Linked DNA regions of Homo sapiens: region 1 is linked to region 2. Evidence: fine-mapped expression QTL. A gene starts in region 2. The other region holds a variant in brackets. All regions are shown on one strand. Distances are from middle to middle.

Region 1 (5,372 bases), 25 kb before region 2:
AGGCTCCTTCCTGTCTTGAAAATTCTGAGACCCATGCAGGAATCAGTTGCCATTTAGATGATGTAAAACAGTGGTCCCCAGCCTTTTTGACACCAGGCACCGGTTTTGTGGAAGACAATTTTTTCCATGGACAAGGGGTGGGGGAGGGAGATGGTTTCAGGATGAAACTGTTCCACCTCAGATCATCAGGCATTAGTTAGGTTCTCATAAGGAGCGCACAACCTAGATCCCTGTCACGTGCAGTTCACCGTAGGGTTCACACTCCTATGAGAAGCTAATGCCACTGCTGATCTGACAGGAGGCAGAGCTGGGATAACCAGCAGGCAGAGCTTGGAGGTAATGTTCATTCACCCACTGCTCACCTCCTGCCATGCAGCCTGGAGGTGCACAGTCTATGCACCTTCGGTACCAGTCTATGGACCAGGGGTTGGGGACCCCTGATATAAAAGGTAAGTTGACTGAAAAATCTGTTGCAAGTAAAACAAAACATGTCTATCCCTGAATCTAGGGATGGAGGCAGTTCCAATTATAGCACATCACAGAGGTTGGAGGGAGGGAAATAGTTCCCCAGAGGAAAATCTGGATCTAGTGTCCAGAAGACAGGTGGATATTGGGGAGTAGGTATGGATCTGGAGAAATCAATTCCAGAAAAAAGCAAAAAGCAAAACATCCGGATTCCTGCCACTACACATACACACCCCTGTCCACCCACATACACACCCACGATATTGAAAGGGCAGCTGGATAGGTGAGTAAATAGTGGGGAAAAACGAGAGCCACTTGGTTCCAACTAATGCTTTCAAAGAATTACAAAAGGCAGGGATGTTTGACAGGGGGTTAGCATATCATCCGTGCAGCTGGAAACAGATGAGAAAGGTAATAGCATGTAAAGCCCCTTCCCATGGGAAGGCTCTCCTGGCTCTGACTCAGGCCAACTGGCTTCTGAGCCATCAGAAGCTTTGTCAGAAAGGTGGGTGAGCCCTCCGCACAGAAAACCAAGGGTGGGCTAAGGCCCCAGGGGAGGAGCTGGTGTTGCCCCAGTTTGGAGGTGGGTCATCCTATGCTTCCCGGCATGTGAACAGCTTCAGCTCCAGAGGCCCCGAGACTCTTTTAGGCAAGTTTATATGGTTCTCAGATCCTACATACGAAGGAGGTACCATGAGACCCTCAGGGAAGCATCTCCCACCACTCCCTAATATGGTGTGTCTTGTGGCTGAGCAGAGGCCCCCAGCCCCTGGGAGGACCAGCCAAGCACAGTGGGAGTAATGGGGGTCTGAGGAGCCAGCCATGGTCCCTGGGAATTACATGCTCCAGAAATACCCTTAGCTCTCCCATGTGGGCCGAGACCCACTGCCCTGCTCAGAATGCCACTGGATAGCCCCAGTCTACGGGCTGCCCAGGCATCTCCTGGGCCTGCCAGCCATTAGCACCAAGTCCAGATAACTCAAGACCAAGTCCAATTCGCTAAGCCCTGCCACGAGATCCCCAAGAGTGCCATCCAAAGAACCACAAAACTCCCACCAAGCAAACAGACTTCAGTTACTAATCAAATCAGCCCATTAATTTCAAAGATCACCCGTGACAGCTTTGCTGCTGGTAGAATCACAGCAACTACTTTGAAAGCACCCTCGGCCAACTCCAGTGGCTTGAAGCCCACCGAAGTTGGGTGCTGGCTCGCCTTCAGGATTCAGGGCTGCAGGAAGTGCTCTCCACCTGCAGGGATATTTCAGAAGCCTCAGCAAGTGGAATCTTGGAGCTCTTCTTCCTGCATGCTTCGAGATTAAGGGTAATGTATGTGCTGAGTTTAAGAATTGCCGTCATGGCTGTGTCAGGGCACCAGATTCAGAAAATTGCACCACAATCAGAGTCCAGATTCTGGTCAGAGCCCTGTCTCTTACCAGCTGCGCAATCTTAGGCAAGGCCGTCTCTTAACCTCTCTGACTTCCAGTTTCCTCACTGGATAAAGGAAACCTCTGCTGCCAGCACGGGCTACCTGCCCTACCTACTCAGAGGTGCTGTCAGTGTCAGCCCCGAAGGTGTCAACTTACTTTATGTAAAAATCTGTTATTTTATGGAATGAAAACTCCAACAATGCACTGGCCCACCGCCAGGAAGGATAGGACATTGTTTTGTAGTAGCAAGCTGATTTTTATACCAACCCTTCTTGCTTTCCTCCCACATTGGTCCCTAGTGACAGCCCACAGATTCCTCCAGTTGAGGAAACACTCTGTGGCCACAAAAGCAAGCCACAGGAATTGGTCCTCAGAGCCACAGAGCCTGTGACTGTGACATCTCCATCCCCATGGCCGCGCTGGTCCCAGCCCCGACTGCCTCACAGTGTCTTCAGGTCTCTGCCTAGGAATAATCCTGAAACCCCAGAAAGACTCACCAATTCCCAGCATCTTCCATACGGGAGGTAGAAACAGCTGGTAGTCTTAATTAAGTAAAGATGGAAAAACCAAACCTGGCCGGGCCCAGTGGCTCACGCCAGCATTTTGGGAGGCTGAGGTGGGCGGATTGTTTGAGGCCGCACTTCGAGACCAGCATGAGCAAAATGGCAAAACCCTGTTCTACTAAAAATACAACAATTCGCTGGGCATGGTGGTGCATGCCTGTAATCCCAGTTACTCAGGAGGCTGAGGTAGGAGAATCACTTGAACCCGGGAGGCAGAGGTTGTAGTGAGCTGAGATGGCCCCACTGCACTCCAGCCTAGGTAACACAGCAAGACTGTCAAAAAAACAAAAAACCTATGAGGCACGGGGTA[G/A]TGGTGGGGCAGCCTAACGCTCAGCAACAGGAAAGATGAATAAGAGTTGGGCTAAGAGCTAAGTCCAAGTTAAATCCAGCCCATATTTGTCGGTAGTCTGGGAGCCTGTGAAACTGTGAGTACTTTGCCAGGTGCTGAGGTGGGAAAGGCAAAGGCATGGCCAAGATAAACAGGGCAGAGGTTCCCTTGCTGTGGGGGAGGTGGGTATGGAGCAGGTCACTGTAATACTGCGTGGCAGTGGAGACCACGCGCTCGGAGTGCTGGAGGGCACAAAGAATGGAAATTCTCAGCTCTGCGGGGCAGTGCAGGGAGCTTTGGGAGCATATTTGAGCCCGGTGTTGAAGGCTGGGTACTTTTTCATGCAGAAGAGTGAGGGGCAGGCCGTCTGGGCAGATCAAACAGCTGTGCCAAGTCCCAAGGTGTGAGGGGAACCCTGGAGGGCTAGAGAGAAGCCTGGGGGTGAGTGGCTGGGCCATACCCTGGAATTACAATTATATCCCAAGGGCAGTGGAGAGCACTTAAGGAGTTTTATTTTATTTTTTATTTTTTTTAGAGACAAGGTTTGGCTCTGTCGCCCAGGCTGGAGTGCAGTGGCACAATCATTGCTGACTGCAGCTTCGAATTCCTGGGCTCAAGCAATCCTCCTCCCTCAGCCTCCTGAATAGCTGGGACTACAGGCCTGTGCCATCATACCCGGCTAATTTTTGTGTTTTTTTTTTTTTGGAGAGAGAGGGACTTGCTATGTCACCCAGGCTGGTCTCAAACTCCTGGGCTCAAGCAATCCTCTTCCCTCAGCCTCCTGAATAGCTGGGACTACAGGCCTGTGCCATCATACCCGGCTAATTTTTGTGTTTTTTTTTGGAGAGAGAGGGACTTGCTATGTCACCCAGGCTGGTCTCAAACTCCTGGGCTCAAGCAATCCTCCTCCCTCAGCCTCCTGAATAGCTGGGACTACAGGCCTGTGCCATCATACCTGGCTAATTTTTGTGTTTTTTTTTTGGAGAGAGAGGGACTTGCTATGTCACCCAGGCTGGTCTCAAACTCCTGGGCTCAAGCAATCCTCCTCCCTCAGCCTCCTGAATAGCTGGGACTACAGGCCTGTGCCATCATACCCGGCTAATTTTTGTGTTTTTTTTGGAGAGAGAGGGACTTGCTATGTCACCCAGGCTGGTCTCAAACTCCTGGGCTCAAGCAATCAACCCACCTCGGCCTCCAAAGTACTGGGATTACAGGTGTGAGCCACTGTACCGGCCTCCTTTAAGGAGTTGTAATCACAAAGTGCTTATCTTTGTATTTCATAATGCTGGGACAGACAGAAAAGAGACAAATTAGAGAGAGTGGGACTGCAGGAGGTGGTAGAGGCAGGAAATAGGGAGCCTGGGACAGTGGGAACAGCCACAGGCTGGAGGGAGGCCTCATCCATGCTGAGGGTGAGATCTTTGGGGTCCTGACCCTCTCATAGGACACTCAGGATTTCCCTCTGCTGACCGAGGCCCCATCTGCTGGCCCAGCAAGACTCACTAGCTCTCCTGGATTGTGCCCCTTCTCTGGGGGCAGGAAAGCCCTAGCCGCTCTTTCCGGCTGCTTCATTCTGCTGCCTCCCAGCTGGGTTAGTCCCTGGCTGCTGATCTCTCAGATCCTCTTGATCCCTACTCCCTCCGACCCGGTGCTCAAGGGACTGTGCTGTGCAGCCATCGTTCCCCTCCACCATAGTGAGTGTCTACACAGTGAAAACTCCTGAGGCATAGTTCCCATTTCCATGAGGAGGCACTCCCAGCCCCTGGCTGCCAAGGCCTCTGGCTGCTGAGGTCCCTGCCCAGACTTGCAAGACATTTTTCTGTTTTTTCATCCTCCTCCCAAGGCTGCTAGCCATGGCTCCCACCTGTCACCTGCGCTGAGCTGGGCCTCCCCTGATTTGGCCAGGGTGAGCACAGCTGAGCCTGGATGGGGTGATGTGGGGATGCCATGTGGCTGGGTCCCAGCTGACGGGGTGCAACGGGAACTGTGGTAAAGAGGGCGCCCAGAGCGGGTACTCAAGGTAGCATGGGAGAGGGCTGGCTTCAGATACCATAAATAATACAGGAATCAAAGTTCAGAGAGGCCACGTGGCCTCTTCACTGTGTGCATATCCCAGGGGCTCACTGGGAAGGATACAGCTGGGGACTGTTAAAGGCAAGACCCTTGATCTCCAGGAGCCGCTAGTCCAAAGGTAGAGAGCCGATGCTCTGCTGGGCATGACCATTCCAGAGAAGAGGTACAGAGCTGCAAACTGCTACAACTGGAGGGACCCCCGGGCTGTGCCAGGGTTGGGGACACAGCTTAAAACTTCAAAGTCCAGCCAGGAGGTAAACACATAGCTAGGGCATGTGATAGGGTCTCTGGCAGAAGTCTGGAGTGCAGTGAGGCCTGAGTTAGCATTCAAAAATGGGCCTTGCCTTCCATTCACAGTTGTCCTCAAACATCGCAGGCTGTGGCTCTCGTTAACCTTCTGGAAGCGGGGGATTCCAAGTACCTAGACTCTGAGTTTACATGGCCTCAAGGGTTTTCAAGAAATGATTTCAGGACAAGCTCTGTGAGTATGATTGCATCATCCAGAAATGTACCCAA
Region 2 (5,322 bases):
GTGCATGGTGGCTGACACCTGTAATCCCAGCACTTTGGGAGGCCGAGGTGGGTGGATCACTTGAGGTCAGGGGTTCAAGACCAGCCTGGCCAACATGATGAAACCCTGTCTCTACTAAAAATACAGAAAAAAAAAAAAATTAGCCAGGCGTGGTGGTGTGTGCCTATAATTCCAGCTACTCAGGAGGCTAAGGCAGGAGAATCGCTTGCACCTGGGAGGCAGAGGTTACAGTGAGCCAAGATTGCCCCCACTGCACTCCAGCCTGGGTGATGGAGTGAAACCCTGTCTCAAAAAAAAAAAAAAAAAAAAAAAAGTACCATGTGGTTGGTCAAGTGCAGTAGCTCACACCTGTAATCCCAGCCCCTTGGGAGGCTAAGGCAGGGGGATTGCTTGAGCCTAGGAGTTCGAGACCAGCCTGGACAACACAGTGAGACTCCATCTCTCTCTCTCTCTCTCTCTCTCTCTCTCTTTTTTAATGTACTATGTGGGCCTATGAGTCTGTGTGGGATTCAGTAAAACAGGCCAGTTGAGTGGGGCCAGACAAAGCCTGGGCTCCAGGGGTCCTCCTGGGGTTGGAGGAAGGGTGGCTAAAACCCTGCTGGCCTGGCTTGAGCAGCCTCTCAGTCTGACTTCTTTTCTCTCCCCAGCCCCCAGCCCCAGCCTCAGCTCCAGTGCCCAGGACCTGGTCAGGAGCTCAGCTTAGTCTTGTAGTGAACTGGTACACTGGCCCCTGAGCTGGCTGGGAGGCCCCCAGGAGCTCCCAGCCCCAGCCACATCCTTCCCAGGCCCCCCGGCCCAGCCCTGCCAGCTTTACCTATAAATAAAGCGGATGATGTAGTAGCAGAGCAGGAAGATTAAGAACTCGCCATATAGCAGCTTGTAGATGCTGCCCCGCCAGCACAGCAGCAGGCGGGAGAAGGAGCCTAAGCGGGCATTAGCCACTTGGCTTGTGTAAGTGATGGTCATGGCCAGGCAGTGGGCTGCAGCAGGTGGGCTTGGGTCCTGGTAGAGAGGGACACCGATTGGGGGTTTGTAGGGATCAGAGGCCCTGGTCAGAGCCTGTCAGGACCCTTCCCTGCTCTGGACCTCAACTCTCCCATAGGGACCCTAGGAGGTGGATGAAGTGGTCTCCAAGGCCCTGCCAGTTCTGACTGCCTTTTGGAAGTAGAAACGCAAGAAAGTGAGCCCAGAGGCTGCCCTTTGCTTTGGCAGGGAAGACGTAGATAGGCGTGTGCATTGCCATGTGCCTTTAACTTTCTATAATCACTGGGCGCAGTGGCTCATGCCTATAATCCCAGCACTTTGGGAAGTCGAGGCAGGTGGATCACCTAAGGTCAGGAGTTCGAGACCAGCCTGGCCAACATGGTGAAACCCTGTCTCTACTAAAAATACAAAAAAATTATCCAGGCGTGGTGCGGGTGCCTGTAATCCCAGCTACTCAGGAGGCTGAGGCAGGAGAATCGCTTGAACCCAGGAGGTGGAGGTTGCAGTGAGCTGAGATCACGCCATTGCACTCCAGCCTGGGTAAGAAGAGCAAAACTCTGTCTAAAAATAAATAAATAAATAAATAAATAATACAATGACAAAGGCAGTAACAGCAGCAATGTCTACACACTAAGCTCAGGTCCTCTGGGCTAGGCAGTGTTCTCAGCCCATCTTGTTCGTTAGCTCCCAAGCTCTCTCAACCACCCTAGTGTGAGAAGTATGGAAGGGACCAGGCAGCCCTGTCCACCACCATATTCCCATTCCCATAATGGAACCTAGCTGGTAGAGATGCTCAAATGATGTTTACTGAATGGTGGCTCCAGGGCCTTTCCACCTGCTGATCTTCCTGCCTGGAGGAAGCTCTTCCTGAGATACCTGCATGGTTCCTTCCCACTCCAGGTTCCCTTTAGAAAGGATGTTCCCAACCATCCAACCTGGAAATAGAGCCCCACTGCCACCGGTGCTCTGTGTCTCCTCACCTTGCTTGATATTTCTAGAGAGCACTTATCACTACTTGAAATTATACAGGATATCTGCCTGTTTCCTGCCTGTTTCCTCCTCAGAATGGAAGCTCCTCTTGTGTTCTCGTAGAAGGCGCTCAATAAAAATTTACTGAAGCAGTGATTGATGCCCCCTCCATTCTTTCCCTGTGTGTTTTGCTGCAGCCACACTGGCTGGCTGTGCCTGATGCACACCAAGCTCATTCCCACCTCAGGGCATTTGCACAGACACACAGGTGCCCACACACCTGCGCATGTGCTGCCTGTGTGTGCATATCCCACACAAATACGCAAGATGGCCATCCAACCCTGAAGGCCTCAAAGCCCCAGCCCAGTCCACCTGGGGCACCTTGTACTCACAGGTGGGGTTCCAGGTGGGTCCGATGATCCCACAGAAGGTCTGGCGACTAGGCTGGTGGGACTCCCTGGGACTCTGTGGCCAGTGCCCCTGCCCACTCTTAGAGGCTGGCACTGCCCACGTGAGTGCTGAGCCGCCGTCACTTGACTCCCTAAGCCAGGACCTCCACAAAGGAGTCCTTGTCTTAGTCCCTTCTTGTAATCTGCTCAGAAGCAACGGCTAGCACAGCCTGGCCATGGCCCCTCTAATTTCTTCTTGGAGGGTGTTGGGCTGAGACCAGGGCTGGAATTTAGGGCAACACCCCCTCTACCATGGCCCTAAAATCCAGAGGCTAAAGGATCTGCTCCACCAGTGTTCTGACCCCTGAGGCCTTGCAGAGAGAGTTGGGGGTTAGGGGGCTGTGCTGAGCTTCAACTTCTGTGCCAGGAACTCTCCAGGAAGGAGGAGCCTCTGACTAGGCCCTGGGGTCTTTGACAGCCCTGTGGGCTATGGAAAGAATGAATACCGGGCTGCAGTCAACAGTCCTGGTTTCTGGTCCCAGCCTTGCCACCTGTGTGTGGTGACCCCGGGTAGGTTTCAGCTCCTCTCTCAGCCTCAGTGCCCTTATCTGAAAAGGATGGTGTTGCTTGGGAATTTCATCACCCTAGTAAAATGACAGAATTCTGCATATGCTGACGAGGAGCTCTGATTGGCTGCTGGTGACATCATACGTTATTCTGGCTGTGATTGGCTGGCAGGGCCCATCAGTAAGTTGCTTCAGAGAGATGGAAGGAGAAGCCTGCCGGGGCTGGTGGAGGGGGGTGAGTCTGGTGGGGGTTGACAGAACAGCCCTGGAGTTTATGCTGCTGGCTTCCAGCCAGCCAGTGCAATATGGGAATAAATGCCCAGATCCCCACGGGCAGCTGGTGAAAATCTCAGCATGTGATTCAATAAATTTTAATACATCAATCCATACTCAAGGGCTCTCCTAAGCTGTTGGAAGTGGTGGGTGTCTACCTACACACTCCTCTTGTATTGTTCAATGAAGAGAGCAGAGCTCTAGGCAGCAGTGGTTCTTGGTCTTTAGAGGCCGTAAGAATCGCCCAAATGTTTATTAAACGGGCAGTTTTCTGGATCTTTCTCCAGAGTCTGAGTCTGTGGCCTTAGGGATGTTGCATTTTAATCAAGCACTGCAGGGGATTATGAGATGTGTGGTTTTGGGACTAAACTTCCAGAAGCCCTGATTTTATAATATGACCTTGTGTCTTAAACCCACTCTCATCCTCCCTTTCCTGTCACCCTCTCTCTCTGAAATGTACTAAGCGTTAACTATGCTGAGATTGCAGGTGATTTTTCTACACACCACTTTTTTTTTCACTTTAAGTTCTGGGATACGTGTGCAGAATGTACAGGTTTGTTACATAGGTATACATGATGTGCAGGTTTGTTACATAGGTATACGTGTGCCATGGTGGTTTGCTGCACCTGTCAACCCATCATCTAGGTTTTAAGCCTTGCGTGCATTAGGTATTTGTCCTAATGCTCTCCCTCCCCTTGTCCCCCACCCCCACACACCATTTTTGCCTTTATATAATTATCTGCCTAGAAAAAAAAACACTATTTCGCAATGACCTTGAATACTTTTCTAATCATGGCAAACAATAAAGCTGTTGTTATTATAAGACTCTCTTTAGAGGCAGCCTTGTAGGAGTATTTACTGCCTCCCCGCTGCCCCATCGCTGTCCTCAACTGATATGGGGAAAGAAGCAGGTTCACTTCAGCCTCAGTCTCCTCATATGCAAAATGGGACAACGATGCCTACCTTGGCAGCCGAATGAGAATGATGGATGGGACATGTGTCCGTCAACTCTCCAAACCACTGGTGCCTGTGCCTGACCCCTACGAATTCTGATTTGATTGGTCTGGATGGACCCCAGGTGTTGGGATTGTTCAAGTTCTCCAGGTGATTCTGATTTTATGGCCTGTGCTGAGTCATTGCTTAATGGATTATTTCCCTATCCTGTATTCCCTTCCCAACCAACACATCCTGAAACTCAAGAGCTTTCCATTTAGAAGATGATAAATATATATTATATATATTTATATATTAACATATGTAAATATGTATTAATATGTCTATAATATTACAAATATATTTGTATGTACACATATATTTATACATATAAATATATAAGTAAATATATAACTATATTTTTGAGACAAGGTCACCCAGGCTGGAGTGCAATGGGTGTGATTTTGGCTCATTGCAACCTCCACTTCCCAGGCTCAAGCAATCCTCCCATCTCAGCCTCCCAAGTCGCTGGGACTACAGACGCACACCACCACACCCAGCTATTTTTTTTTTTTTTATAGAGATAGGGTCTCACTACATTACCCAGGCTGGTATTGAGCTCTAAGTTCAAGCAGTCCTCCCACCTAGGCCTCCCAAAGTGGTGGGATTACAGGAGTGAGCCGCCACACTCGGCCAATAAGTATGTTTTAACTAAAGTTAACACACATGCCTGGCACCATGCCTGGAACATTGATGCTCATTCTGTACTCTCTGAAGGAATAAATGAAAATCCTGCCTTTGTGGAGACAAGTTCTTGCCTTCCCTGTGGTGGCCACTAGAGAGCGTGCTTGACTAGCTGGCTCTGGCTGGGGAAGCCTGGTTCACTGGTCAGGATCAGTGCAGACCACGGAGCTGGCACTGCTTCATCTCCCTGACCCCGACCAGCAGCCATAGAGCCATGAGAGGGAGTTGGAGACACTAGAGTCCCTCCTCCCTGTTCCCTGAACCGCAGGCTCCTTGGCAATATCCCAGGAGTACCACCAGGACCATAGACAGTGCATGGCCAGTCTCCCTTCCCCTCCCAGAGGCCCCAGCATGTCCCCAGAGACATCCCATGAGCAGCTGCTCCTGGCCCTGCCCCAGAGCTGAGACAGGCACACCCTGGCACAAGTCATGGTCTCTCCTACTGGGTCTCAGCTATGAAAATG

Which allele goes with the higher level. Positions count from the first base shown, and alleles are read on the strand shown. Sizes are in standard deviations (SD) of each study's normalised expression.
In carriers of allele G in region 1, the expression in transverse colon of the gene that starts at base 2,422 in region 2 tends to be higher than with A alone (small effect, 0.16 SD a copy in GTEx).

What was found. PIP is the estimated chance that this variant, and not a neighbour inherited with it, causes the effect.
Region 1: its variant is the best candidate, but not a certain one, in a credible set for the expression of BEST1 in transverse colon (GTEx, PIP 0.65).

Annotation. Positions count from the first base shown.
Region 1 is chr11:61,972,888-61,978,259 of GRCh38, reverse strand. No RefSeq gene overlaps it. Among named protein-coding and RNA genes, the nearest start is that of FTH1, 7.9 kb to the right of the region's middle. RefSeq lists an enhancer at 5,298-5,372. The variant G/A (reference allele first, on the strand shown) is at 2,766.
Region 2 is chr11:61,947,451-61,952,772 of GRCh38, reverse strand. BEST1 (bestrophin 1) reads right to left here and starts at 2,422. Exons shown (of 11, transcript NM_004183.4): 1 at 2,346-2,422; 2 at 815-1,002. The coding sequence starts at 966.